Linked DNA regions of Homo sapiens: region 1 is linked to region 2. The links come from fine-mapping of genetic effects on gene expression. A gene starts in region 2. The other region holds a variant in brackets. All regions are shown on one strand. Distances are between the middles of the regions.

Region 1 (15,388 bases), 23 kb before region 2:
AAAGAAGTGGGGAGGGAGGGCAGGGAGGAAGGGAAGGAGAGAGGGAGGGGAGGAATGGGAGCGGGAACCTCTTTTGAAGATTGTCCCTCCCAGGACTCAATCCTCTTCTTTTCCTCCACTATTCATGGCTGAAGTTCTTGACAGACTTGGTCTTCACTTCCTGCTTCCACATTCTCACCTTGAACAACTTGTCAACCCAACCTGGATCCTCCCCATACCAGCACCAACTCCTGGGACACTGCTCTTGTCAAGGTCCCTGGATCCTCCCCATACCAGCACCGACTCCTGGGACACTGCTCTTGTCAAGGTCATTAACAATCTTCTGACTCAGGACAACCAAGAAGTGCTTTTCTGTCCTGACTTTACTTGGTGTCCTGCCTTGGATTACCCACTTCCCTGGGTTTTCCTCCTGCCTCTGTGTCTCTTCCTTCTCCGTCTCTGTTGAAGACTTTCCTTGGCGCTGGTGTCCTTTGGCTTTTGTCTCAACCTTTCTGTTTCTGTCAGTCTCAATCAGTATTTCTCCTCGTGTGTCTCACAGGCACTGACTCTTAGTATGTCCAGACCTGAGCTCACCCTCTCATGCTTCCCCACCCTCACCCAGACCTGAGACCTGCTTGTCCTATGCTCCCATCCCAGAAAACGGCACCACGACCTGCACGCATACCCAAGCCAGAGACCTGTGACGTGGGCTTGTCACCTTCTTCTCCCTCACCCTTCACATCAAATAATTGCCAAGACCTCCTCCCTCAGCACCTCAATGCCTCTTACCTCTGTCAACTCTTTACGCCACCATCCCCAATGCCACAATCGCCCTCTGCCTGAGCTCCTGCAGGGGCTTCATAACCACCTCCCTGCCTCTCTTCTCCCTCTCTCCAATCTTTTCTCCAAACTCCAGACGGAATGATCTTTCTAAAATGCAAATCTATTCATAGCGCTCTCCTGCTTAAACCCTTCCATGGCCTCCCACTGCTCAAGATTAAGCCTGAACTCCCAGACAGGTTCTTCCAGTCTGTTGTAATAGAGACCCACTTCCTCCTGTCTTCACTTTCCCTCTCACAGGCGATGGCTATATTGAACTGCCCGCACCCCCTTATCCCTGGGTAAGGGGTACCTGCTCCATTTGCCTTCCCGTCCCACACCCATTCCATCTTTTCTTGGCTCCCTCCTATGCCTTCTTTGGGTGACTTCAAGTGACTTTAGATAAGTCACCTTTTCCAGGATGCCTTCCCTGACCTCACAGGGGCTCCAGCTGGGCAAGTCCTTAGCACCCTGGTGTGACCCCCTCCACCCTCTGGGGTCCTTGAAAGAAGGACGAGGACTTTGTTGGCAGCACTGTGCACACAGAGGGGATGCCAATGCCTGGTGCGTGGAGGAATTCGGGGAATACGTGTTGAATAAGTAGTGAGTGAAAGATTGGATGGAGCTAGATCACCCAGTGTATTATATGCTAGGCTGGGGAGTTCGTGTTTTATTCTGTAAGTAAAATGGAGCTACTACAGAATTTGGAACGAGGGAGTGAGTTGACCTCGTCCATGCTTTTGAAAGTTTGCACTGGTTTCTAGAAGAACGAGGTAGGAGACTCTTGCAATGGTCCATGCAGGAGGTAATGAGGTACTGCACTAGACACAGGCAGGTAGAAGGCAGACAGAGGAGAAGCAATGCAGAAATCACATTGATGGATCCCATCAACTGATTAGATTTGGGGTTGGGGGAAGCGGGGGCATGCACAGAGCAGGGAAAATGGTTGTGGATGGCTCTGGAATTTAAATCTAAAATGGGGCCAGATGCGGTGGCTCATGCCTATAATCCCAGCACTCTGAGAGGCTGAGGTGGGAGGATCACCTGAGGTCAGGAGTTCAAGAAAAGCCTGGCCAACATGGTGAAACTCCATCTCTACTAAAAATACAAAAATTACCCTAGTGTGGTGGTGCACGACTGTAATCTCAGCTACTTGGGAGGCTGAGGCAGGAGAATCACTGAAACCCAGGAGACGGAGGTTGCAGTGAGCCAGGATCACACCACTGCAGTTCAGCCTGGGCAACAGAGGGAGACTCTGTCTCAAAATAAATAAATAAAATAAAATAAATAAATCTGGAATGGCCAGGATATGATTATTCTCCTACTGCCAACCATCAGAGGGACGGCCTTTGTATCATTTACACTCAGAGACTTTCCAGGAGCCCCCTCAGTTTCTGCCTGGAGCTTCCCTAAGATCTGTACCCTTTGTTTTCTGAAGTTTGAGGACCCCAAGACTTCATGCTTCTACCATAAACCCTTATGTGGAGAGCAAATATTTGCAGAGCATGGGGTAATTATTGTTGTTTTTATGGTTATTTATTCAAACAGAATTTGAATTATAAAATTAACAGTGGCTTGCCCTGGTATCTCATCATACACACACAGAGCATAATAACTCCAACCTCGCCCCCACCAGGACTTTAAAGAATATCTACGGCAGAAAGTTATGGGTTTGGCTTTTTATTTTGTTTTTCAATCTTCAAAACTCTCTTCTCACCCTGCCTCGGTGGAGCTGTGTCTTTGCACACCTGTCCTGGGCAGCTGCACCGGCCATCACAGGGAGGGACATTATGCCGCACTTGCCTAGGAAAAGCAGCCACCGTGCCGGTCAGAGACAGGACCACAAGTCAGGAGGCCTGGCAGGCTCTCCACCAGGTGGAATTGGCAAGAAACTCACGTCTTCTCTGCCTCTTCCCACCAAAGGCAACCTTCAGGGCACAAGGTTAATGTGAACACGATTTGTCATCATCCGGCAGAGTCTCACCGGGGTGCCTGTGTTTAGCAGGTTCACTGAGCTCAGTATTTCTGAAGCACTTACTCCTGCCGGACAAGCAGTTACTGATGAAAGCAGGAAGAATAAAAATGGGAATGTTTTCTCGAAGTGAAGTGGGACTTGCCTGTGGGTGCTGCACTCACAGGTAATGGATCAGGACACACAAGTGACAGTGTGGACCTGGAGGTCAGACCACTTGGAGTCAAAGCCCAGCTCGGCCTCTTACTAGTGTCCTGATGACCACTTAACCCCTCTACAGCTCAGTTTCCTCATCTGTGAAATGGATATGATAAAAATAACTATTCCCAGGGTTCTGATGAACATTCATTGAAATAATCAACATAAAGAACTTAGCGTTTAGCAGACTGTAACCCTTAGCTAGTGTGATTTTTCAACCTCCAGACCCCTTTGGTAGAGTAAATAATTCCAATGGTCACCTGTTCCTATGCTGTTTTTAGAGTTTCCCATCCCCATGGGCTGCTGCTGCTGCTTTTTCTGCATTCATGAGATTTTTTTTCTCTCTTGAAAAGAGCTTCCTGCCAGGCGCGGGGGCTCACACCTGTAATCCCAGCACTTTGGGAGGCCAAGGCGGGTGGATCACTTGAGGTCAGGAGTTCGAGACCAGCCTGGCCAACATGGTGAAACCCCGTCCTACTAAAATACAAAAATTAGCCAGGCGTAGTTGCACATGCCTGTAATCCCAGCTACTCAGGAGGCTGAGGCAGAAGAATCGCTTGAACCTCGGGGGTGGAGGTTGAGGTGAGCCAAGATCACACCACTGCACTCCAGCCTGGCTACATAGCAAGATCCCATCTCAAAAAAAAAAAAAGAAAATAAAATAAAAGAGCTTTCAAAATATACCTGCCTCCAGAAATACTCAGTAACAGCTTAGTAACAGGTGGGCAGATCACGAGGTCAAGAGATGGAGACCAGCCTAGCCAACATGGTGAAACCCCATATCTACTAAAAATACACAAATTAGCTGGGGGTGGTGGCGCATGCCTGTAGTCCCAGCTACTCAGGAGGCTGAGGCAGGAGAATCGCTTGAACCCGGGAGGCAGAGGTTGCAGTGAGCCAAGATCGTGCCACTGCACTCCAGCCTGGGTGACAGTGCGAGACTCTGTCTCAAAAAAATAAAAGAAAAAAGGAAACACTGTACCCATTAACAGTCACTCTGCATCTCCCACCGTCCACCCCACACCCTGGAAACAGCAAATCTGCTTTCTGTATCTGTGGATTTGCTGATTATGGATATTTCATATAAACAAAATGCTTCCTGTATTCTTAAGACAAAACCCTTCTCTTCCACTTGGAAGCAGTAAGCTCCACAGTCAACAGTAGATCTTGGGAATCAGGCCCACCAGGGTCTAAGCCCCAGCTCTGCCACTATGGACTGGATGACAGCAGGTGAATTATCTAACATTTCTACAACTTGCTTTTCTCCTCTAGAAAACAAGGATGATAATCACAAGATCCTCACCCAGGGTTATATGAGGAATCAGTGAGCTGACACTTGTCCAGGGTGCTGTCAGAGATTATTAATATTATTTCCTATTACAGCACACAAGTAATGCAAGCTCATTGAAAAAGATATGGTCAACACAGAAATGCATAAATAAGAAAGTCGAGCCCGGGCATGGTGGCTCACACCTGTAATCCCAGCACTTTGGGAGGCTGAGGCAGGTGGATCACTTGAGGCCAGGAGTCTGGGACCAGCCTGGCCAACATGGTGAAACCCCATCTCTACAAAATACAACAATTAGCCGGATGTGTGTCGCGCACCTGTAATCCCAGCTACTGGAGGGAGCTGAGGCAGAAGAATCTCCTGAACCTGGGAGGCAGAGGTTGCAGTGAGCTGAGATCTCGCCACCGCACTCCAGCCTGGGTGATGGAGTGAGACTCTGTCTCGAAAAAACAAACAAAAAAAAAAAAGAAAAGAAAAGAAAAGAAAATCACCCATATCCCCCAACTGTGCTGTGGGTTGAAGGTCTGTGACCGTGGCTCACCTTAGGGCTAGCCAACAACAGCTGCAGCAATAGCGAGTGTTGAGATGCATGGACAGAGCATGGGCTTTGGAGCTGGACAGACCCAAGCCTGCCTCTCTGCCCTGTCACTCTATGGTGACCTCGGACAAGTCACTTAACTGCCCTGAGCCCTGTGTCTTTATCTGTCATGGTTAATGGGAAACATCTCCTTCCTAAGGTTGATGTGAGAATTTAAAAGAGATGAATCCCAGCAATTTGGGAGGCTGAGGCAGGAGAATCGCTTGAGCCCAGGAGTTCGAGGCCAGCCAGGGCAACATAGCAAGAGTCCCCATCTCTACAAAATACATTTTTTTTAATTAGCTGACCACGGTGGTGAGTGCCTGTAGTCCCAGCTAGTTGCGAGGCTAAGGTGGGAGGATTGCTTGAGGCCAGGAGGTCAAGGCTGCAGTGAGTTGTGTTCATGCCACTGTACTCCAGCCTGGGAGACAGTGTGAGACCCTGCCATAAATAACTAAATGAATAAATAAGATGTTCAATGTCAAATGCATGACACATAGTAGGGTCGCAACAGCCACAGGCATGAGTGGGCCCTGGAGAAGGCAGCACACGAGAAGAGCCATTCAAGTTGCAAGTACCAATCCCAGTGGCGGTGCAGAAACAGGGGAGGAGGTGGGAGACTCGTGGGGCAGTCAGGATTTCCAGAGATGCCAGGAAGGACTTTGCAGGCAGGGAGAAGGTGCTGAGTGCAGCAGGGCTGTGGGCTGTTTTATTTCCCTCCCTAACCTTCACACTCAGTCGCTCCCATCCCACTAGCTCATTCACTCTTCTCCACATCCCCGTGTTCACAGCAAAGCAGCCTGTGGGTGGTGCAGAAGATGGAGAAGTCGTGAGAATAATAGCAACAATAGCAATAGTAATAGCTGGCATTTTTACGGAGGGTTGCTGTGTGCCAGGCACCAAGCCAAGCCCTTTCTCACTTCCTCCTCAACTACGAGGGGGTGGGGAGGGGGCCGAGGGAGCTTCTGCTGTAATAGCCTCTCCGTGAGGACGGGAGACCGCAGAGGGGCTGCTCACGTGCCGACGCGCAGGGATCTCTGGCCCGCACCGGACCTGGGCTCTCCCAGCCCCACCGCCGTGGAATCTGAGGGACTTCACGCTTCTGGGAAAGGAACAACAAAGAAGGCATACACAGAGATTTTGTGCGATTCAGAAAGACTCCAGAGAGTAACAGGCCAGCTTCCCTCCGGTATTGGAAGCTACTCTATGAAACTCAAACTCATAGGCCAAAACTGCATGCTTTTTTCAGAAGGCCAAAGCAAGTCCACCTCAGCTCAGAGTATGCCAAGCTTCAATTAAATGTAAACGGATCCCTTAATGCATAGAAGAGACAAAATAGGGCTGAGGCTGCATGCTGCATTGAGTCCACATGGCACCAGGGAAGTCTGACCCCTGGGAAAGGGCACGTACAGGTTGGCTGCAGGTGCCCGGAGCATGTAAATAATTGGAAATAATGGGGCTCCAGTAGGTACCATCAAATGCGTGAATGGGATTATTCCTAGCACTTCTGCGAGCCACAGATGACTTGCGCCATCTCCTTTACTGTGCTGAGTAGCGACAGATGGCAGAAGGAGAGTTGGGCAAAACCAAGTCTCGTCTCCCCACCATTAACAAGCTGTGTGACCTTAGGCCAGGCACTTAACCTCTCTGGGTCTCAATTTCCATGCTTTTATAAGGCTGAGGAAAGCTCAATTCCCTTCTGGCTCTAAAATCCCTCTTCACCCCTTCTCACATGAACTTTTGGAATTGGCCACGGAGGCCAAAAGAAGCCGTGGCTGCATGCTGGTCTAGACTGAACAACAGACACCCCAGCAGGCAAAGCCTCGTGCAACATGCCAGGGTGTTCCTGAAATCGTAGAGGTAAATCAGCTGATTGAAAACTATATCATAAAAGTTATGGAAGTCTCACTCTGTCGCCCAGGCTGGAGTGCAGTGGCCCGATCTCAGCTCACTGCAACCTCCACCTCCTGGGTTCCAGCTATTCTCCTGCCTCAGCCTCCCCAGTAGCTGGCATTACGGGAGCATGCCACCACGCCCAGCGAATTTTATATTTTCAATAGAGACAGGGTTTCACCATGTTACCCAAGCTGATCTCGAACTCCTGACCTCAGGTGATCCGCCCACCTCAGCCTCCTAAAGTGCTGCACCTGGCCCCTTTAATCTGTTTCTTAACTTGATTTTCCACAGGTGGATTTAATAAGCTTCAGAGTCAGCTGATCTAGGTTGGAACCCTGGTTCCTGGAAAAATTACTCTCTCAACTTCAGTTTCCTTATCTGTAAAATGGTGTTAGTGCCTACCTTGAAACTTTGTTAGGGAAGCTAGCAGGAATTTATGTCGAGTGAAGCAGAGTACGTTAAACATGAGGTGCTCGCCTCATATCAGCTTTTTTGCACGATCCTCAAAGCAAAACACATGTTCATGTGTACTTGCCTTTTTCTCTGTGGTCTCTTTTAGGTCCTCCAGGACAGGGACAATATTTTTATTCTTGGTAAACCCTATAGTGCTTTGCACAACACTTAGTAGAATAAGTGAATTCATCAATGAACGAAATTACTCTTTCGTTTTTCCCTAAGGTTCTGGTCTCTTTTAGGTCCTCCAGGATAGGGACAATTGTCATTCTTGGTAAACCGAGAATAAAACTTTTCTCTCTGATCTCTTTTAGGTCCTCCATGATAGAGACAATTTTTATTCTTGGTAAACCCTATAGTGCTCTGCACAATACTTAGTAGAATAAATGAATTCATCAACGAACGAAATTACTCTTTCGTTTTTCCCTAAGGTTCTGCCTTCCAGAGTTCACACCATCTCACACTTCATTGTTTCTCCCTTCCTCACAGCCAACATCTCTTCCGGGTGGTAGGTTTAAGTCAGTCTCCGGTCGCCGTTTTTGCAAGTCTTAGAGACTGGCCCTTTTAAAAGAGGATTCCTGACATTTGCATCTTGTGTCAGAACACATGCATTTGCATACGTTGGAGAACCTTGAGGCTCCAGACAGCCTGAAGTTAGAAAGTGCTCAGAAGAGCAAGGCAAGCCTCCCCCAGGAGGGTAGGAAGTGGTAGGCACTTACAGTTAGTGCCAGCCAACTCCTTAATGTCCCAGCCAAATTCCTGGGATGGCCAGTCCCAGGAAACCACATGTTTTTATGCTCAAGCTTGTAAAACATTGTCGTAAGTAAATCAAATTTTTGTCCTGCCCTCTCTGCTTACCAGACCAAGAGCAGTGATTATGAATGGCAAGTGGCAAGAAACGGGGTGGAGAAAAACATCACCAGTGAAGACGGAAATGTGTCTGAGAGGTAGGACGGGGGTGTCTGCTTTCTCAGGGAAGCTCCAGCTTCTGTTCCACCTCCTGGGAACCTGCCTGTGTGTCCTAATGTCCACCTAGCCCGGATGAGACTGGACAATCAAATTCATGCTCCTCCCGCTCTCCCTCACTTTACCTGTGGGGGTGTCAAAGCCAGAGAGTGAAGCCATTAAATCAGTGCAACCAGAAAATTCATGAGCTCAGAGAGGGCGGGTTGCCTGGTAGAATTAGTAAACTTCATGAGGTGAGAACCACATTTCCGTTCAGCTCAGTGTTCGC[G/C]GTGCGAGACAATGCCTCGCCCACTCGAAGTGTTTGTTGAGGGAGTGGATGCATAGATGCAGGAATAAACCAGTGAACGAACACATCGCAGCCGGCAGTAAACTCAGCAAGCCCTTCAGGTTCCCTTTCAAGGCGCTAAGACTACCCGTTTTGCAGCCTGGGCTACTTAGGGGTAACAGGTGAGAAAATATCTGTTGAAGTTTCCAGGACAGTGGAGAGGGCAATGCGTGGGCAGGTCCCAGGAGAAAAAAAAGGCTGCAGGTGGGGTGGAGCCAGCCGTGCAGGAAGCAAGTGGGAGAGAAGTAGGAGGTGGGTGCAGCTGAGCGCCCGGGGAAGCCCCTGCAGGAAGGGACGTTGGTCAGGCAGGAGGAAGGAGGAGGAAAGAGCACATCACATCTGTGGTGCCCAGGTGGCCACCCAGAGCCCACTACGCCACATAGGCTGTCATTTAATTCCTTCAAGAGCCCTGTGATTTCAGTATTATTATCTCCATTTTATGTCGGAGAAAACTGAGGCTCAGAAATAGTAAGAAACACAACCAAGGTCAAGAAGCTGGAAAGTGGAATAGCGTTGGGAATTCAACCAAGGTTTCGCCAATTTCAAAGCCAATATTCTTTCCATCCTCCTAGCACTGTCTCCTGGGAAAAATTAATGTGAGGGATACGTATCACATTGATACACATCATCCAATGATACCCTGCCTCCACCCTGCCGCCAGCCACCCAGCCCCATCAGTCCCCAAGTCCCGTTGACTTGTTTTTTCTAAGTTTGACTGGGACCCAAACCCTTCTTTCCATCCCTGGCTGGGCTGCTGCCTCAGCCCATTCCTCCATCACCTGTCACGTGGACCACAGCGGTCCTCTCCTGACAGGCCAGCCACCCTGCTTGCATCTCACATGGCACATCCACAACCACAGTGTTCTTTCTGGAGTGCAAAATGGAATGTTTTTCTCCTGCTCTAGGATGAGGCCCAGATCCCCTAGGTCCTGGCCTGGCTGACCAGCCCAGTAGCATCTCTCTCAATTGGATGGTGATCCCCAAAAAGATATGTCCACACCTAACAACCGGACCCTCTGAATGTGACCTCATTTGGAAAAAGGGTCTTTGCAGATGCCATTAAGTTAAAGATCTTGTGATGAGGAGATCATCCTAGATTACCCAGGTGAGCCCTAAATCCAATGACAAGTGTCCTTTAAGAGGCAGAGAGAGACCTGGTGCGGTGGCTCTCACCTGAAATCCTAGCACTCTGGGAGGCCGAGGCGGGAGGATCACTTGAGGTCGGGAGTTCGAAACCAGACTGGCCAACATGGTGAAACCCCGTCTCTACTAAAAATACAAAAATGAGCCGGGTATGATGGTGGGTGCCTGTAATTCCAGCTACTCGGGAGGCTGAGGCAGGAGAATTGCTTGAACCCAGGAGGCAGAGGCTACAGTGAGCCGAGATCGTGTCACTGCACTCCAGCCTGGGTGATTGAGTGAGACTCCATCACAAAAAAAAAAAAAAAAAAAAAGAGGCAGAAGAGAAGACACAGAGAGTAGAAGACCACGTGAAGATAGAAGCAGAGATTGGAGTGGTGCAGCCACCAGGAACGCCTGGAGCCACCGGCCACTGGAACTTCAGGGACAAGGGAGGATTCCCGCATGGAGCTTCTGGCGGGAGCATGGCTCTGGCAACCCCTTAATTTTGGGCTTCTTGCTTCCAGAACAATGAGAGAATAAAGGACTGTTGTTAGAAGGCACCCAGTTGCTGGTGATTTGTTTGGCAGCCCTGGGAAACTGATACACCTTTCCCATCGTGCTCTAGCCAGACCCACTGGACTGAGAAAGATCTGACAGTTTCCTCAGATTTGCCCAGTTCTCTGTCTGGTCCTTCGCACATGCTAACTCTCTGCCCAAAACACTGTTCCACCCGCTTATTTACAGGCTGACTCCTCTTCCCCTGCCACTTTCTGAAGAATCTTCTCTGGCACATCAGCCAGGTTGGACTCCACTTACAGCGCGACCCCTCTTTCGGTGCACTTCACTTTTATAACACTCATGATACTTTATGGTCATTTTTGGTTTCATTGTTTCATTGGCTGGTAAGTAAGTTCCATGACGGCAGGAACTGCTGTATCCCCAGGCCCAAGTGTGCAGTAGCCACTTCGTCAACATTTTCCCTCTACCTTAGTTCCATTTCCACCTCTGGCAAGCTTCCCCCATTATGTGAGGAAAGCCCATTTTCAGCTGGAAATACAGGAGCGAACCCATGAAAATGGGGTGAGGAGGGCAAACAGAGAATGAAAGAACTTAGTGTCATCTTCAGCCCTGTGCCCAGTCACCCCCAAGGCCAGCGCTGCTCCTGGGCTTCCTAGCCGTGTGAGTTAATAAAGTCTATTCTTTCTTCACACTAGTCTGTGTCTGTTTTCGGTCACTGAAAACAGTGACTGAAAGGATCCTAGCAGAGACGATGCTTCCACTGCTTGAAAGGTACCAACTCACACGTCCCCATGGCCTTTCTAAGAGAGAGTTGCTGAAATCCCTATGTTAGTGAGGAACTGGGGTTCAAGGGACCCTGTCATGTGCCCAAGCTCTCACCATCGTGAAGTGGGCAAGCCTGGATCTGCACCCCATCCACGCAGCAGGCAGGCAGGAAGATCAACAAAGGCCTGAAGAGAGGCAGCAGCCCAATGTCAGGCCCGAAAGCCCTCCAAATACAAATCACAAGAATTGGAGTGCAGGCCAGGCACAGTGGCTCACATCTGCAATCCCAGCACTTTGGGAGGTCGAGGCGGGTAGATCATGAGGTCAGGAGTTCAAGACCAGCCTGACCAACATGGTGAAACCCCATCTCTACTAAAAATACAAAAATTAGCCGGGCGTGGTGGCACGCACCTGTAATCCCAGCCACTCAGGAGGCTGAAACAGGAGAATCCCTTGAAACTGGGAGGTGGACATTGCAGTGAGCCGAGATCGCACCATGGCACTCCAGCCTGGGTGACAAAGCAAGACTCCGTCAAAAAAAAAAAAAAAGAATTGGAGTACGAACAGCAACAACAAAACCCATGGTGCCTGAAATGTCCCCCTTTGTTTCCTCCAGAGTCCGTGACACACTGAATCAATGTGTCTCCACATTGACCTTGAGGACTTAATTCTAATCAGGAGCTTCGTTCAATCTCTTACAAGTCTGATTCTGATTATGTTGCATCTTTAGTGATGGGACCATGAGTACCTAAAAAGTGATGAGCCACACGTCCAGACAATCTGTGTTTAGCATTTATTTATTTATTTATTTATTTATTTTATTTTTGGAGACAGGGTCTTGCTCTGTCGCCAGGCTGGAGTGCAGTGGCTCCATCTCAGCTCACTGCAGCCCCAACATCCCAGACTCAAGCGATCCTCCCACCTCAGCCCGCTGAGTAGCTGGGGCTACAGGTGCACACCACCACACCTGTCTAATTTTTGTTTTTTGTTTTTTGGCTTTTTTTGTAAAGATGAGGTTTCACTATGTCACCCAGGTTGATATTGAGCTCCTGGGCTCAAGTGATCCTCCTGCCTCAGCCTCCCAAAGTGCTGAGATTACAGGCATGAGCCACAGAGCCCAGCCTGTGTCTGCCATTTAAAACAAACTATGGGCTGGGTGCCGTGGCTCATGCCTGTAATCCTAGCACTTTGGGAGGCCGAGGCTGGCAGATCACCTGAGGTTGGGAGCCCAATGTCAGGCCCGAAAGCCCCCCAAATACAAATCACAAGAATTGGAGTGCAGGCCAGGCACAGTGGCTCACGTCTGCAATCCCAGCACTTTGGGAGGTCGAGGCGGGTAGATCATGAGGTCAGGAGTTCAAGACCAGCCTGACCAACATGGTGAAACCCCATCTCTACTAAAAATACAAAAATTAGCCGGGCGTGATGGCACGCACCTGTAATCCCAGCCACTCAGGAGGCTGAAACAGGAGAATCCCAGGCAGGGAGACCAGCCTGACCAACATGGAGAAACCCCGTGGAGAAACCCCGTCTCTATTAAAAATACAAAATTAGCCGGGCGTGGAGGCGCATGCCTGTAATCCCAGCTACTCAGGAGGCTGAGGCAGGAGAATCACTTGAACCCAGGAGGCGGAGGTTGTGGTGAGCCAAGATTGCACCATTGCACTCCAGCCTGGGCAACAAGAGCAAAAACTCCATCTCAAGAAAAAACAAAAACAAAAACAAAAACAAAAAACTGTGTGGGGCTGGGCATGGTGGCATGCACTTGTAATCCCATCTACTCGGGAGGCTGAGGGAGGAGGATCACTTGAGCCCAGGAGTTCAAGGTTACAGTGAACTATGATCACACCACTGCACTCCAGCCTGGGTGACAGAATAAGAGTCCATCTCTAAAAATACAAAACAAAAGTTAAAAAAAATTTAAATAAATAAAAAATGAAATAGTGGTTCTCTGCTCTTGGCTCAGGAAAGCCAGGTCTCCCAGGGGCTGGAAAGAGGGACCTTCTAAGGGACAACTTCATTTTCAGACAGTGGCACTGAAAGCACGGGAGAAGGGGAGTGTGACTTTGTCAGTAGCCAGTACCCTGGCTGATGCTCCCGGGTGCTCAGTCTCAGAGGGCCTGGTTCCCATTAACCTGCACTGATGCTCTCGACGCCTCCATGCCCTCGCCTCCTAGATTCCGGTGTTTCTACGTGGAGAACACACATTCCACACCTGCTGTGAATACAGAGCTCTTCAGTGACACGAGTCTCCTTCCTCCGTCCCGAACACGGGGAAAGGGGAGACATCTTCTTTGTTCATGGGTGCTGTTGTCTGATCACCCTCTGTCCCACCCACAGGGCATCTGGATCAGTATTAAATAGCTGAAGGGTCGGCTCAGCAATTGAGTCACATGGCCTCCGCAGCATGGATCAAGTAAGGGTTTCAGAAAAATGTATGTGAACATGCTCCAAGACTGTAAGGTCATAAGGGAAGAAGATTAGATAAGCCAAGTTAAGTGAAAAGTAATTGATATTTTACTGTACTTTTTTTAAAAAAAAAAACAACATTATTTCACTTAACCATTTGGCCATGGGTTAGAAATGAACTCTGGAGACACCAAAAGGGAGAATATACTATTCTCACTTCCAAAGAAATAATATTTTCTCCTCATTTCCCTTTAATTTTCGTTGAGATATGTAAAGAGCCCCCATTGCTTCGTCAGCTCAGCACCAGCCGCATTCTGGGAAACTGTCTGCCCTGCTCCCATGCCCCCTGTGCATGCATATGCGGTGCCTTCAATATGGCACCATGGGAGACTAACTTTTGCTACAACGGGCCTCACCCTTGGCACCGACCATTGGTCAAGAGGTGGGCACCTGATCCAAACGGGCCAATCATAGCCCTCCCCCCAGGATTTGGGAACTGCAACTGACAAAAGAAGTCAGTCTCTCTCTGGGTGTCTGAAAATGAAGGCATGTAAATGCAGAAGCAGTTGGCAGCCCTGTTCCACCATGTGGACTGAGGAATAGAAAATGCCAATCAGCAGAAAGAGAATCAGAGGCAAGGAGAGGAGAGCAAATCCAGACGGCATTTGAGCTTCTAGTTCTAGCTGCTTGCAAGGCCTAGCCATATTCCTCTTTTGGATTCCATTGAATCCAAGTAGCCTTATAATAAAATTCTTTTTTGGCTTAAACTCACTTAAGTTGGATTTCTCTTCCTTGCAACCAAAGAGTTTTAACTAATATGAGAACATAGTCCTATTTCAGTCTCGCTTACATGCTAATCTTAAATTCCTCAACCATTTTACTTTGTGACTTCAAAATGAAAAAAAAAGTGAAAATATTTGAGTTAGACTCTTATGCAAATTAGACTGCAATCATTCTCTTGGACTGTTTCTTCACAGAACACTGATAGCGTTTTGCTCCATGCTGGAATGGATTAAGTACAAGCTAGAAATATAAAAAATGACTAGGTTGGTGGTGTGGCTGTCCATGGTGGATTGTGGCATTTTTATGATTGTCACTAGAAATTTGATTTTCTCTCATTTTAAAGTCCATTTGCAATTGTGTTGTGTTCTCTTTTGACAATCTACCGAAGTCAAATGATCTCTGATCTTTAGGCCTATCAGCATCTCCTTGGACACTCCACATCCCATGAACCACATCCAAAAGCGATGGTCCTTGGTGTGCCACTTCCTGTTGAAGCTGCCTGTCTACCAGAATTAGCCTTTTCAAAGGCAAGGCCCTGTCGGGGAAGGTGACGGGGAGCTGTCCAACCAAGACTCTGTGAAGGAGCTGAACAAACAGAAAATCACTCTGCAAGACTCATAGGAATGACTCCTTAGGAGTCATTCTCTCTGATAGACGGCAACAAAAACAAAGGTGATATTGCCTCATCATCTTTCTTAAAGGTAGGTGTTTAACATTTTTAAAATCCATGGAAGTGGACTGGGTTCGGTGGCTCATGCCTGTAATCCTAGCACATTTGGAGAACAAGGAGGGCAAATCGCTTGAGCCCAGGAATTTGAGACCAGCCTGGGCAACATGGCAAAACCCTGTTTCTACAAAAAAAAAAAAAAAAAAAAAATTAGCCAGGAAGCGCACGCCTGTTGTCCCAGCTACTCAGGAGGCTGAGATGGGAGGATGACTTGGGCCGGGAGTTCGAGGCTACAGTGGGCCACAATTGCACCACTGAGCTCCAACCTAGGTGACAGAGCAAGACCCTATCTCAAAACAAAACATACAAAACAAAACATGGAACTAGACAAGCTCTTGCCTGATATCTACTTAGGATCTCTCAGGTTTCTCCTGTTAAAAAATACAAATAACCCAAAAGCCACTAGACTTGAGCAAAGACAAGGAAGCGTGTGTCTAGCACATGGCCAGCATGCATGGGCATAACTGTAGTTAGATATTAAAACCCGAAGGCTGGTGGAAACAGTCAGCAGCCCGGTCAGTGCCCTCCCTTATCAGAGTGAGTGTGTCTTTGATCCCAATGAGCCTCAGAAGCTTGAGCAGTATATTAGT
Region 2 (15,388 bases):
AACCTCCCGTGTCATCAATAAGATCTGATTACTTTAGCTATCCTTTTATAATATTAAGGAAATGTAAGCAAGGGCGGAGGTCCTAGAAGCATAAAATGTTTCTTTTTTATGGAAGTAAACCTACTCGGAGTCAAAAGATAAACGGTTCTACATTTTAAACCAAGGGATTATATACAAAGATATTTTGCCGTGTTTTTGTAGGCAAAGGTACAAAAATTTTAACATAAGGGACAAAATCCTGTCAGTATAATAAACTTGGACTACAGCCAAAATGAAACTCCTAAAAGCTATTCGCTTTTAAAAAATAAAACTATTCCTTTATTTTTAAAGATGGTATCTTTAGCATTTTAATGTCAAGTAATTTCAGTGAAAAGGACGGAGCTTTTCTTTGCCGCATTTCAAATTCACACTCAATTCACTGTACCTTATCAGCAAATTCAAGCATTGCAACAAACAATTATAACAAAAATTTAGGTCAGTATCTACAAATTAAAATATAAAATTATCTCAGTTTCCTAGTCAGAGCATGTGAAACTTTCCCTCGTTATAGTGGAAATCAAAGAATGTTTTAAGCTTTATAGGAATAAAATAGTCATGCCATGCAGGAAATTTTGAGGTCTTAAGACCATTAAAAAAAAAATCTTATATGTACAATGGGATTTCTTGAGTCAAGGCTTCATGGAGTCAGTGAGTCGGTGTGTGTTTTATACGTAACACTTGGAAGTTCGAGATTTTTTAAGTAGTGCCACTTCTTGGTAAAAAAAAAAAAAAAAAAGATTTTTTGATGGTAGTTAAAAAGATTTACTTGGAAAATGATTATTTTGGCCATTTTAACTGTTCTAAAATGTTAATATAGTATTCCCCTTTTTCCAACCTTTCAATAACCTATTTGTAGATATTCATAACAAATGTTAAAGAAAAACTCTATTTGATTCACCTATTAATCTGATAGCATAATTAACCAGAAAGGAAATCCGAAACTAGTATCCTTAACACTTTATACTTCTTGGATCTTCCCTAGGGTACCCCTAGCACACAATGCTGAACCCACATCAATCCAGTGCATAATTGATTATCTAAAGGAAAAAGAAGTTTTCTAAAGTAAATAAAACTACATATTTAAAATATACTATGTATCAGCCAGATGTCAAAGGAGGGATCAGTTTTAATGGTTTCCAACATGATCACATGACAAATTAATTTCCTTTTTTAAATGTGGCAAATAAATGATTCCTTCATTTCACTTACCAAATGTGGCAGTTTGTGTAATTAATATTCTGTTCTAGTTTTGCAAAGAATGTTTTAAGAAGTTACTTCTTCCAAATCATGTCAAAATATTATTTTTATAAGTATATCCAGTTAAGATTGTTAAGATAATGTTCCTTACTTAAAATTAGATGTTAGTCCACAGAACTAAATTCAAGTAAACGCTCAGCATCTTCAGGAAGCTTTGAGATACTCTGACCAGTTACTATAGGAACTGAAAATAAAAAGTCCCCCTCCCTCCCCTTTTTGTAAGCTTGTAACTGCTCAAGAAATTATTCTATGGGGGTCAAATGTACATTCCCCTTTCATGTGAAACAGTATTTGGCTGGTTAAAACCAAGGATGAGTTACATACTTTAAAAATTGTTTTAGAAAAAAAAAAAAAAAGGCAGGGGGATGGAAATTAGGATTCCAAATTATGTTATTATACTTCATGACAAAATCCCTGTGGCTTCCTATCCAAAGCCACCAGGTAGTTGGTAAATGGTCCATTTTCAAACTTCAGACCTTATATCCCACTTCTGTAGGTTAAAAATATTGACCTTACTATAGGCCACTGAATATAAACATAGTTTGACAGTAATAATGTAAAATTTCATAGTCATATTTCTATTTAAGGTTGGAAGTTAGAGACAAGCACGGTTTACAAAACCTCTCCATGCCTGCACCTGACTGCTTGAGCTTAGGGTTGTTTGTGACAATTCCTCTACAGTATCATCCGCATGTGTGAGTGTTCTGTCAATTCCCTACCCAGGTCAACCAGCAATGTTTCTCACCCTGACATGTACCCAACTAGATAAGCATGAAGTTGGGACAATCATAAAAAGTAGGGAACAGAGTTCTTTTAATGGTCCATGTATTTAATTACATGTTTAAATTAAAACTTGAGAATTAAAACCTAGAAACTTTCGAGTTCTCCCAGCAACAAAAAGGATGTATATAGCTAATCGTGAACAATTGCATGCCTGCTAATTCAATTGCCTAGAATTCCAGTCATTAGCCAAGCAGTCTTCCAAATTAAAACATCCGGTCTCCTTCAATTTTCCACTTAAACCAGAACACAGGAGAATAGATTTGACCGATCAACTTAGGATAAAATTACACACGAAAAGTGACTTACGGTATATGGATTAGTAGTTGTACAGTGTATTTTTAACAACCTATGCTGCCACGTAGTTTCATGATTCATGAGTTTCTAGGGAATTACCTCAACATTCTTGATGTAGATTGTGAAAATGGGTCGCATTTTTTAAATGTGCATTTAGTATCTTCTTAAGTGACTAGAATGCTTACACATTTTCCACTCGAGTGATTTAAGGCATTCTAATAATTTCATAAACTCCGAATAGAATTGATATTAAAGATGCCAGGTATGATACATATTTAGAATCTATACACTACATAATCACAATAAAAAATACACACAAGAAATTCTCAGTTCATATAATTTATTGCAGTTAGCACACAGTTTAAAAATTCACCAACACACCAATAGTACAAAACTAAACAGCATTATAAGTTATTCCCCCTCAGGAAAATAAAACATACTATGATTGTCAAAGCTAGATGTCAGTCTAAGTTTTAGAACAAAGGAAGAATGTGAAACTAAGAAAAGGAAAAAGCAATCACTCACAATGACCACAAAAAGAAAATCCAAAAGAAAGTCCGTTTTCTCACAGACATTGATTGTCTTCTCTAAATTAATAAAAATTATTTTAACATAAACTGTATTTTAAAAAAACTAGAAACTCTTCAAGTAACTAAAGATAATGCTCCAAGGCCATTTTCACAGCTTTTTTTGTTTGTTTGTTTGCTTTAAATGCCATTACAGCCAAATTAACACACATTTAACCAAATATTTCCAAAACAGTCCAGCAACACACAATGGAGTTTTCCATTCAGTATCTTAAGCACAAAAATAGGCTATGTTTACAGTAGTTAAGGCGATCAAATTTTAAACAAAAGCAATTAAAAAAAAAAGGGAAAAACAGCAAACGTTTTCCATGCTACTCCCATAGACCTTATTTGTAAGTGCAAGACAGGAAAACAAACACTGTGCAAAATGCTTTTGCCTTGCGTGCTGGTCATTAAAACCACACGTTAGGCTGCAGCCTCTGCTGCCGCAATCCACATAGTCTACTAACCCCCTTCCCCATGTCAATCAAGGCAGTCCAGTCCTTTCAGCCTGGGGCTTTTTCAGTCCATAGAATCTTTTCATGAGTTGGGGGTGGAGGGTGGTGGTGGGGGGGGAGAGTAAGGGAGGGAGGGTAAGGAGGAAGGGGAGAAAAAGAAAAAGGGAGCAAACAAAAAAAAAGAGAGAACGACCTATTGTCAACTTGTGCAGTAGTTATTCTAAGAACGCTCAACTGGGTAAATGTGTACACCTAAACTCTGAGCTGGCATGGGTTTTGTGCAATTAGAAGTTTGTTATAAATGCACACTGCACATGCAAATCTTTAAGCTGTTTGTAAACATTTATATTTTCCTTGTTATGTAGCGAAGTTATCAATTTGCAGCTTAAGTTTTTATTCAGCTTAACAGTTTCAACTTAAAGACAGTGGGAAAGTCAATTTAAATTATATAAAATAAAAATAAAAACAGTGCATTTACGTTCTTCATAACACCAGTTTTTTTTTCCAAATGGTGTTATTTTTCTAAGGAAATTAAATAATTTTAAACTCACTCGTTAAAGTTATACAATGCAAACAAAGACAAAAAATATATTGAAACTCATGCATTTCTGTAGCGTTAATATTTACTTTTCAAGACTCAACTAAGAGCATCAACACAACCTGTCAAGTTCTTTGACACCCCCCCAGCCCATGTAATCAATTACAGTATACAATAACAGTAATTCACATTTTTAAACACACAGTTCAACACTGCTGAAGCTGCAATATCCTTTTTCATCCCAAGCAAACCTTCATAAGACAGTGTCCCAGTGATCCCAGTGTACTTTCAGCATTTCTCTCACTGGGAACTGTCAGAAAACCAGAAGTTGCCACAGAAAGTTTTAAGTCAACTGCTTGTTTAAAAATAGATAATCCAGCATTTCAGAAATTTTCCATTTGGGTCTAAAAGCATTCAGGTTTCCAACAGCCAGAAAAAATTCATGCAATTTGAGACATATAAAGAGGCTAATAAAACTGGAGGGAATTTCTACTTAAAAAAAAAAACAAAAAACAAAAAAACTTTGTTGGGGGGGAAAAAAGAGCTCAAAAGACAATGCAGTGTTGACAAAATTAAGCCATATGAAAGCATTTTGTGACAGGACGATTTGTTTAAAAGGTTCTTATTGGCTTACTTCCCCTATCCCCTCAAAGGAAAAACACCTCTCTATTCTGACTTGCTCTAAAGTTTCTTTTATCAGAATGCTAAATTAGTGAGATTCTCATGCTATTCTAAAGTGCAAAAACAAGTTAATATCCCAACTTTTTATTTCCAGGAAACAAGACTGCTTTTAGACCGTACCACAACTATATAGAGATCTATTTATATATATGTATATATATATATATTATTTATATATATATAAAATTATTTCCAAAGTTCTTGAGAGCTATCTTCTAAGGTCCAGTCTCTGACAGTAGGCAAGCTCAGTGCTTCGCTTTTGACCGACAAGGAGTTCACCAACTCACAGTGGAACTTGCGAATGTGTCTGTACAGGTCCCCGGACTGCGTGAACCTGCGCTCGCACCACTTGCAGGCGTGCGGCTTCTCGCGGGTGTGCACCACGGCATGGCGGCTCAGGTTGTGCGAGTACTGGAAGCTCTTGCCGCACTGGGTGCATGTGTAGGGCTTCTCCCCCGAGTGAGTCCTCTCGTGGCGCTTGAGGGTGTACATGCAAGAGAAAGTCTTCCCACACAGCGAGCACGTGGGCACGTTGACATCGGCGGCGGGCTTGCTGCGGATGCCGTCCTGCTCGCGGAAGTGCGTGCTCAGGTGGATCTGCAGGATGTGGGGGCTGGGGAAGACCTTGTTGCACAGGGGGCACATGAAGATCTGGCCCGCGGGGCTCAGGATGTTGGAGACGTAGGGGAGCAGACTGCTCTCCATGCCTCCCTCCACCTGGACACGCTCGCTCTCTGGGGTCATCATCTCATCATCACTGGCTTTGTCCTCCCGGTCCAGCTCCCTCAAGACCGAGTCCTCCCTCAGGGGAGCCAGATGGGCCGGCTCATACTGTACCCTGTTATTAGTGCTCACACTTTCTTTCACAGTGCTATGTTCCATGTCATAGTCATTAGTGCCAACATCACTCTCATCACAGGAAGCCTCTTTCTCCACCTTCACCTGCACCAGGTTGCTTCTCAGCACGTCCTGTGAAGAGAAATAAGAGCTGTTCAGATTTTCAACTCCTGAAAGGCTGGACTTGACAGACAGGTCCAGCACACAGTCAACATCTGCCGAATCCCTCACGGAGGTGACAGACCTCTGGGACAAAGACTCTGTTGAGCTGCAGGGGCTGGCTACTGTTTTTCCAGCTGCTGTGGCGTGTGGCTCTGCCTCTCCGCCAGCCTGGGGGATGCCTGCTGAGTCTGAGGGCAATCGCATCCACATGTTCCCAGGCTCGGCCGCCAAGTCCCTTTTGCTGGGCAGGATGTTCAATTTTTCATCTTCTCCTTCATCTTCATCACTGGGCAAATCGCCTGCTATGTGGCTGCTGCCATCGGAGAGACTCTCGACTTTGTCCGAACAACTTGAAGCATCTTCTTCCTTTTTGGTGCTGTCTGCCTCCGTGGTGGCTTTCTCTTTCAGCTTCTTTTTGCAGACTTTGACAATGTCATACATGTGGAGATAACTGGCAGCTGCTAGCACGTCTTCAATGGGCAAGTCTTTGAACTGGAGTTTCCCTTCATACATGAATTCAAGCAGGAGAGCGAAAGCGGGGGCTGTAACAATGTCGCTGTTCAGATGAACAATGTCTCTTTTGTCCAGCTGGTCCTTGTAAAAGAGGTGGAAATACATGCTGCATGAAGCCAGTACAGCTCGGTGCGCTCGGAACTGGGCATCTCCCACCAGAACAGTGCAGTCACAAAGAAAACCCTGGTGTCTCTGCTCGCTCAGACACTGTAGCAAATGTCTACTATGGTCTGGAAACTCCATACTGTCTTCATAACCTGGGGAGAGAGGAATTTCTCATTAGAGCCTGGTCAGGAACAACTTTTCAGCGCTCCAGTCCCCATATAAAAAAATTAATTCCGCTTTGGCCGCCGTGGTACATGTCCCTGAATTTTAATCAGGCTTATGACCCAAGCACCACCAAATCACACGGACAAGACCTAAATGCCAGAAGGAAAATGCACACTTTCTGAACTTCCTCACCCCCGCCAAAGAGCTTCCGACGCATCTCCATCTTCCTTGAACCCAAGTTCTAAAAGCCTTCCTTTAACTACAGTCTCTCACTAAGAATAAGAATTTAGATCTCTTCCAGAAGAAATTTAATTAACTCTACTTATCAAATTATGTCCCACAAAACCTACAAAATAGCTTTAATTTCAAAGGGAACAACTCATATAATAAACAAAGAAAAGTCCCAAACATATCCTGGAACATACAAGAAAACTTGTTCAACCATCCTTTTTATTACTTTTGCTACCTGACTGTGCTTAGAAAGCACAGTTTAAACACACACACACACATTTGGCTGAATCAAGAAAAAAAAATGAAATTGCATAATTAGTCCAGAAATTAGCAAACAACTTACTTTTAAAGTCAGGGTGTTACAACAAAAGCCCTGTGTATAAAAACAGATGTTAATGCCTTCAGATTTGCAGGTATAGCACACATGTACGAGATCAGAAGGAGCTGCACCAACAGATGGAAAAGATCATCTTTACTATGAACAAATCCAAAGATTTTTCAAAACGAACTGAGAAAAAAGTAGTTACATTTCTTTGTAGAAACTGTACTTTCAGAATATTAGGAACCAGAGGGGCTTTACTGAACTCCGAAAATTCTCATCTAAACTTTGATCCGTTGCAAGGCAAAATGAGTTTCATATTGAAATTAATTCAAACTTTTAAAAATAAAGGCATACAGCGCTTAAATAAAACTCAAAAGCTTTACAGGTTCAACGTTTTTTTTTAAGCCTTTTTAGAAAAAGAGAACCTTTTTTTTTTTCCTGGTTCTGCCTTACCTCAGCCAACAGAAAATACTTTGTTTCAATATAATTTGATATATTTCTGTTTTCCCACTAGCTTCTATTCTTGCAAATATTCATCATTGCCCTTGTTTTGTGATGAGGGAAAGTGAAATGGAGGGAGGAGAAAGGCAAAGATGTACAAAGGGTCAGAATTCAACTGCAGTGGGTAAACTCCTGAAAAATAAAGAAGACCCGACTTCCCCTTTCCTGTGACCAGAAGCAAGCCTCCACACCACCCATCTCAGCAAGTGCATTTTGGGAATAGATACACTTAATTTAATATTCAGAAATTACTTCCTTTCTTCTTGTTCTTCTACACTTTGCCCAAGACAGACTAAAACTTTATCCTAACCCCAGACACATTCTGCAAGATGCCACTGCTAGAATAAACTAAGATTTACAATACAATCACTTTAAGTGCCCCACAGCTAACATCAATCCTAATCCTTGAGAAGGCTAAAAATAAAGATTGGAGGGCAGCTCACAAGGTAGCCGTGATCAAATTAGGAGGCTGAGAGGACAGAGAGGGACGAAGAAGGAAGCTTATAAACATCTGATCCAGCTGACTGTGGCCATATGGCAGCTGCTGCCCAGATAAAGAGATTAAGAATAGAGGAGTGCGATTACAGCTGTCTGGCCAATTCAGGCAGCTCAAATCTACAAGTTCTAAATTAGTCGCTAACACAAAAACTCCTGCAAATAATTATTGTTATGCTGAAATAAAAGATCTCTTAAATATATATTTGAAAGAGAAATGAGGAAACCAGTCAAACTATTCTCCTGGGGACAAAAGTTTGGTTTTTTTTTCTTCTTCTTAAAAACCTGCAGTTTCAACAGCACTACAGCTGTATGTTTCAGTAGTGCTGCTCAATGTTTTGAAGAATAAAGTTTCACAGAGGAATTAATTATACAACAATCTAGCTGCTTAACTAGAATAATCTTCTCATATAAGTTTGAATGCTGGATTCCAGTTTACTATTTCCCCACCACCACCACCCCAATCAAATCTAAATAGCAGTGAACAACAAAAAAGCATTTTAATCCAACGTGATTTCCAAAAGCAGCATTTTAAAGCCTTTCTTAACATTTCAAAACTTGAAATATTTGTGTATTAAAGTTATTTACTCGCTCAAGTAAAAGGGATAAAAAATTAAAACTAAACAAGCTCAAGACTTTCAACTCCAGTAAGATGTTCATTTAATACTCAATTTCATATATTATTCCTAAACTGGGTTAGAAAAGTAATGTGATTTTTAAAATTAAATAAACAAAACACCAAAACAGAAATATGCTCAATCTAATCTCTTGCTACTCCTACCTTTAGGACACATAAACCTGATTAAGTCCTTTCCTCTGAGTCCTGCTGGCTCCAGGTCTGTTACATCGGTGGAAAAAAAGCAGACTAAGAGAGACAGATGCAAAGTGGAGATGATGTTAGAGAGGAATGAGATACCTTCTCCACCACAGATCCGCACACACTAACTCCCTGTCTGTGTGTTAGAATAAAAGGCTGAGGGATGGCAGGCTGTCAGCTGCTCTGACATCATGTTCAGATGGAAATGCTACCTCCAGCTGTGCTCCTTTTAATGCCATATGCTACTCCTCTACACTCCTGCCACCAGCTTTTTCTTAGGAGAACTTTTCTCTTCTGTTAGTATAAACAAAATACTTCAAAGTCTTCCTTTTTTTCCAAACTTTCTAACAGAAGAAATTGAAAAACTCAGCATATGGAGTTCTACTGTATTTATGGAATAGCAACACTTCTGTCTTAAGTTGGTGGACTGGCTTACATACTGACAGCACACTCAAGCCACGGTGCTATTCAGGAAATCCAGATTCACTTTTATTCAACTCCAACGTTTAGTTTCTAAAGCAGTTTAGGGATATTTTTAAACCAACCCATTTGACATCTCCAGTCCCATTTCAACATTATTACCGCACTTTTTTATTTTTTTCTGCTGAGATAATGGTATACATGTCTCAAATGTTGGCAGACTTGTTCAGAACTATTACTTCAGACTGGTTCACCTTATTATTTCACTCTTATGTAATTACTTATCTACAACTACCTTCTCAGAAAAATTTCTTACACTGCCACAGTCAATGCAAATTTCAATTCTCGGTACCAACAAGCTGAAACTGCACTTTCTGAAATCCTGGAAAGTACTTCAGTTCAACGAGACCAATTAATAAACTGATACAACCTGCTCCAGTCACTTAAAATGAATGCTGCACCTGCATATCTGATCTTTCTGCTCAGAAAAAGCAGAACCTTGCCTTCCCCTTGATCTGTGTCCCTTAACAATCTTTTTTTTCTTTGGGGGGGGGTCACTCTAATGTTTATGATCACAAGAAAATCTTTGTGTGGGGGGAAGCCAGGTCTAGTAAGTTTGAGAACTTTTCAGCCAGTTTGTGGGTCTTTTCTAATAGCTGATGAAACTGTAACGCGACCCGGGCTGGGCTGACCGGTACCGGGCAGGGTGCTGCGACATCTCTGAATGTCAAATACATCTCCTCAGACTCTTGGGAGGGCGAGGGGTAGAAAAGGAACTGGGGCCTGAGGCGCCAGCGTCCCAGCCCTGGTGATAACCACTTCGTTCCCATTAGAAAGCCGTGGCGGAGAGTTAAAGAGTAACAAAACCCGACGACTCCGTCCTGTCCTTCTCGCTTTCCCAAAGTCACAAACCTAACTTTCTCCAACTTCGCGGTGAGTGACATAATTATGAACACTTAGTCCAGGAGACATCCTCGGGAGATCAATTTCTTCCCAGCCACACCACCTATTCTCCACAAATGCCCTCGACCCATTCCAATATATCAGACATTAATCACCCCATTTACCCAGTGGGGTGGGGGGTGAGTGACAGTTTAATGAGTCCCGGGCACCGCAATGGGCCAGCAACTCCCACTCCACAAATCAACCCCTTCACGTCTCGCTACCGCGGATCCATAGAGGTTTTGTGAGGTTGGGGTTTTGTTTTTCAGAGAGGTGGGGGCGGGGGTGCCGAGTGGGGAAGCAATGCAAATCTTTACGTAGTTCGCCGTGCATAAAACACACGGGGAAAGAGGAAGGTTAAAACCACAGGGAAGGAGGTGGAGGGCGCAGAGCCGGTGCAGCAGGAAAACACCTTAAACAACAGAGGAGAAAACAGACCCGGGTCACGGCAACAACAAAAGAAAAGTCGTAAGAAGCAGCCAGCGGGAGGAGAGTGGTTGCTACCGCTTCCCCGATGCCGCGACGCGCGAGCCCCCGGGGCCTCCGGGCAACTGCACCAGCCCGGGAGGGCCCCCTCCCCCGCCGGCCCCCTCCCCCGGGCGCCACTGCAGCTGCACCGGTCCCCGGAGCCGCGGCCGTCCCGGGCGCCACTGCAGCTGCGGCTGCTCCCAAGCCCCCTCCCCCAGCCCGCCGCCCTCCGCACCCGAGAGGCGCCACCGCAGCTGCACCGGCCGGGAGCCCGCCCCGCGCCGCAGCTGCACCGGCCCGCGGGGGCGCGGCGCGGAGCCGGGAACCCGCACCCCGCCCGACCCCGCAGCTGCAGCGGCCCCGTCCCCGCGCCCGGGCCTCCCGCAGCTGCGCCGCCCCCCGCCGCCCCAACAGCTCCAACCACACAAACTAACTCCACTCGCGGGGGCGCCCCCGACCCGGCCCGCCCTCCGCCCGCGCCGCCCAGCCGGCCGGGGCCGCACAGCTGGCGCCCCCCGCCCGCCGGGGTGCCGGGGCGCGGAGGGGGCGCCAGGTCAGGGGCCAGGGGCCGGCGCCGGGACTCACACGGAGCGGCCCTAAGTCACCGCGTCCCCGCCGCCGCCGCGTCCTCCGCCTCCTCCTCCTCCTCCTCCCGGCCGCCGCCGCCGCCGCCGGACTTGGTGGGCTTCCTCCGGCTCTTGCCCCCCTCCCTCCCGGCCCCCCCACCCCCCAATCCCGGCTCCGTCGCCCGCTCCCCCCCGCCCCTCCCTCCCGCCCACCCCCGCTGGCAGCCGGAGGAGCGCGGCGGAGCGAAGAGGGCCCCACTCTCAACGGCTCCCCATGGCAGCAGCCCAGCGGCGGCCGCAGCCTGCCAGACACAGCGAGGGAGCGAGCGAGGGAGCGAGCGCGGAGCCGCCGGGCCGGGTGGGGGGGCGGGGGCGGGGGGGGGGCGGGCGCGGGGGAGGGGGAGGGGAGGGGGCGGGAGGACGCACCACGCACGCACGCGGCGGCGCCGGCCAGATGTTCCCCCCACCCTCAGTCCGCCCCTCTCCTTCCCCTGCCTCCCTCCCTCCGGGCGTTGGGCTTCTGCGATTGACCGAAAGCGGCTGGACCGGCGCTCCCCGCCCGCCCCCAGCCCTCAGACTCCTCCAATGGGAAGGCGGCTCTTCGGGAAGGCGGAGGGGGTGGTGGGCAGTCGTCGGACTGACAAGGGGGCCCAGCCAATGGGGGTGGCGAGCCGTAGCTGCCCTCCCGCGCGTTCCAATCGCAGGCAGCAACTGTTGGGGTGGGCGGGGCTCGGGCGGGCGGGGATCCGGAGCGAAGCGGCGCGGGGCGGAGTCCTCGGGCGCAGCGGCGGTGGCAGCAGCGGCGCCCCTCTGGGTGACTTGGCCGTGAGAAAGTGAAAGGAGCCCGCAGGCGGCGGCGACAGCTGCGCTGGGAGGGGCTTGTTTCCAGGCTCAGAGGCCCCGCGCACTCTGCGGGTGCGGAGCGAGCTTTTCGGTGTGCACTGTGACAACCACAAACACACTTTTGAACGTAGTGGGGCTTGGCTGCTGCGAGTTACGCAGGTATCCTGGAGAGGCAGGGCACCCGGGGACACGGATGACTCGAGGCCGACTTCGGGTGGCTCTCTCTGCTCCTTCCTGTGGGGGTGAAGACGCCCGGGTCCTCGCCGGCCCGTGCGCAGGGGAGCGGGACCGAGGAGCGCTCTCGCTCCGTCCTGCGGCGTCCCGCGCCCAGGTGCACATCGGGGAGCTGGGGACGCAGGCGACTCAGGCAGTTTCTGGGAGTCGTTCTTACGTCATCATGTCACGGGCAGAACAGGGCAGAGCGCCCGCCTTTCTCGCAAAACCCTCCTGTCCCTTGTGTACTTACACTGTTACAAGTAAAGACTTCCCCAAGTGACCAAATTTTAGAGCATTACAGTAAAATTGGTACTTGCAGATGCCTCAGCTTGATTCCTTAATTGATACGTATCTAGCCACAACTTTAAACTACCGAGGGACGATGTAAGACTGCTGTGTCGCTTTTCTTTCCTTCAAATAAACTTTTACTCGGTACCTGTTCTTGGCAATTAGACTGCGTTAATCACAGCCACAAAGACGTGGAAATGTCTGCCGTCAAGAAATTGGAAATCGTATCGAGGCAAGAATTACAAGTAAAAAGTTGAATAACAAGTGGTGGGGGAGGGGGAATGGCTGAAGAAAATAAAATAGAAAAAAAAAAACAACTTCATAGTGAGGAAGTCAGTCCACTAGTCATTGTCTAATGAAATGTGTTTATTCTTTGCTAACAGAACCCAGACTGGCAAGCCTGTTGCTAACCAACCTGCCAGGAGACCTTTCAACTGGGCAAAATGTGCTTTCACTTTGTTCCAGGTCAAATGGGTAAAGTAGCTGGAAAGTATTGTGTGGGCAAATCAGACATGTTGAATTGCTAATGAAGTAAAAACAGGAGCAGACAGAATTCCTGGAACTGAAATAGCTTCGAGATATCTGGTTAGAAACAGTAGTGATGTGCCTACTTTTTTCTCAACCCTCTACGCCCTCATGATTCATCACTGAGGTCAAGGATATCCTATGAAAATTGGAGTTTTTGTATTCCATGAAGGCTTTTGTTGTATCTGTGCTGTCGATGAATTCTAGGTCTTTTCAGTCTAGTGGTAGAAGGCCCAATTTCAGTCTGACCTGTTTCAAGGTAAGGAATAAATGTTATTCACGAATGAAATATACAGGCACACAAAATGAGATGTGAAAAGTATATGTTTCACCAACTAATTCAGGGAAAAAGAAATGTTTGCGTTATCAAAGCTGTTTCTCATCTACTAAAAGTTAAAATTAAGGAGAGTGACAGATCTCTACATGAGTAGACAGAAAGTAATTGATAGTGTCAGGATATTAATTCATGAAAATATTAGTACACTCGGATTATCTACAAAAAGCTTAGAAACTCAGCTGTACTGCATCTAAAGCCAAGGCATAGCTCTAACAAAATGTTTTATAGAATGTACCTGCAAGTAGAGTAACAGCCCCAAAGATATGGAGGAGACATTGATACATCAAAAATTGTAACCTGTGTGTGTATGTGTGTGTGTGTGTATTGTGTTTCCCTTACAGTCATTACTAGAATCCATTTTGGGAACTGAGCAGTGTGGCCAGGAAATATAGATTAAATGGATATTTAAGGAAGCAAATCTGTTGCCCCTCAGTTGCTACAACCATTTTATCCAGAGTCCCCTAGTGTGACTGTCTTTTATGCCCTTTTTTTCACATTTAAATAAATTGTTTTTACTCTCTTGTCTTAAACTGTTTTATAAACTTATCGTACAGATGATACTTTCAATCCTTTGGAAAGTTATCACCATGAAAATTGTGAGTAAAAGTAGGCTGATATCGGAGGAGTCATAATACAGAATGAGTAGTATTTTTATTTAATACCCATTGGAACCCTGGAAGGTAATAAGTCAAAGTCTGAATATCCGCCTCAAGTAAGCACCTCAAAGTAGGGTGTTTACCACTATATAACAGGCTGAGCAAATTACCAAGACACACAGCTACTTGACACCTGTCGAGTTTGTCGGTTTTTTTGTTTGTTTTTTAGCTAATAATCTATACTTCTCCCCAGCCCCCCATAGTGGGGGAGAAAAGGGCAAAAAGTATACATTCTAAGCTCTTGGGAAAAGATACCATACTTTCTTTCTGGAGGAATCCAGTCCTGTATAGTTCTAGTTAATCCATACTTTTCTAGGTGTCCTGAAATTAAAAGTGATACAAATGAATCTTTCTTGCCAGGGAACAAGTTTTATGTGCTAATAACATATTCATTTCAACTAATAACAATGTAATAGTATAAAATGTTGATGGATCAAATAAAATTTAATTTGATGAGCAACTCCATAAAATGAATGTCTGACCTTTAAGTGTGAACCACAGCTCAAATCTCTGAAAAACCTCAGTGTTTTTATTACACTTTATGCAATAGGTCATATTGAAAAAGTTATCTTGGAAACTAGTTTTTGGATATTGATATTTTATAAATGTATTAATTTCCTACAGGAATGGAATGTTTCTTTAAAAATTAGGGAGGCAAGCAACAGTAAAATACTAGGTGTTTGAAGGTATTATATTGATAATATAATAACTATAAAATCTAACAAAACGTAAGTAGAGGTCAACCTGATTTTGAACCTAGAGAGAAAAAATACACTAAACTGGGAAGTGTGTTCAAGCTTCTATGAAGCCCACTCACTTTCAATATTAGAGCATACATGGAACTCTATGAACTTACTTAGTTTTTTTTCTCTCTGTCTCATCTCTCTTCTGGCATTTAGAAATGAACAGGTTGATATGCTCTAAAGGGAAAAGGAAACACTGAAACACAGTTGAGACAGTGATTTAAAAAAAAGTAAATGAACAAACCAGAACACACATCACAACACATTAAGGAGAGTGACAGATCTCTACATGAGTAGACAGAAAGTAATTGATAGTGTCAGGATATTAAACAATTCATGAAAATATTAGTACACTCGGATTATCTACAAAAAGCTTAGAAACTCAGCTGTACTGCATCTAAAGCCAAGGCATAGCTCTAACAAAATGTTTTATAGAATGTACCTGCAAGTAGAGTAACAGCCCCAAAGATATGGAGGAGACATTGATACATCAAAAACTGTAACCTGTGTGTTTTTTTTACAGACAGAATGAAGTGAACAGGGAGCATATTTTATATAGCATCATTCTTAAAATACATATTTTACGTATTTATAATTCTCTATAATACAGTCTAATCTTA

The links. PIP is the estimated chance that this variant, and not a neighbour inherited with it, causes the effect.
Region 1: its variant is fine-mapped to the expression of ZBTB18 in whole blood (TOPMed, PIP above 0.99). The same link has a PIP of 0.9 or more in T cells.

What each region holds. Positions count from the first base shown.
Region 1 is chr1:244,068,021-244,083,408 of GRCh38, reverse strand. No RefSeq gene overlaps it. Among named protein-coding and RNA genes, the nearest start is that of ZBTB18, 24 kb to the right of the region's middle. RefSeq lists enhancers at 5,931-6,431, 8,544-8,593 and a silencer at 15,248-15,388. The variant G/C (reference allele first, on the strand shown) is at 8,417.
Region 2 is chr1:244,044,785-244,060,172 of GRCh38, reverse strand. ZBTB18 (zinc finger and BTB domain containing 18) reads right to left here and starts at 8,890. Exons shown (of 2, transcript NM_205768.3): 1 at 8,729-8,890; 2 at 2,697-6,385. The coding sequence starts at 8,741. The coding sequence ends at 4,803. LOC124904570 (a long non-coding RNA gene) reads left to right here and starts at 11,932. Exons shown (of 2, transcript XR_007066975.1): 1 at 11,932-12,162; 2 at 12,576-14,490. It overlaps LINC02774 (long intergenic non-protein coding RNA 2774), which reads right to left. Exons shown (of 12, transcript NR_033883.1): 11 at 14,882-14,945; 12 at 12,856-13,281. RefSeq lists enhancers at 7,614-8,115, 9,832-9,881, 12,092-12,251 and silencers at 9,562-9,651, 11,802-11,921.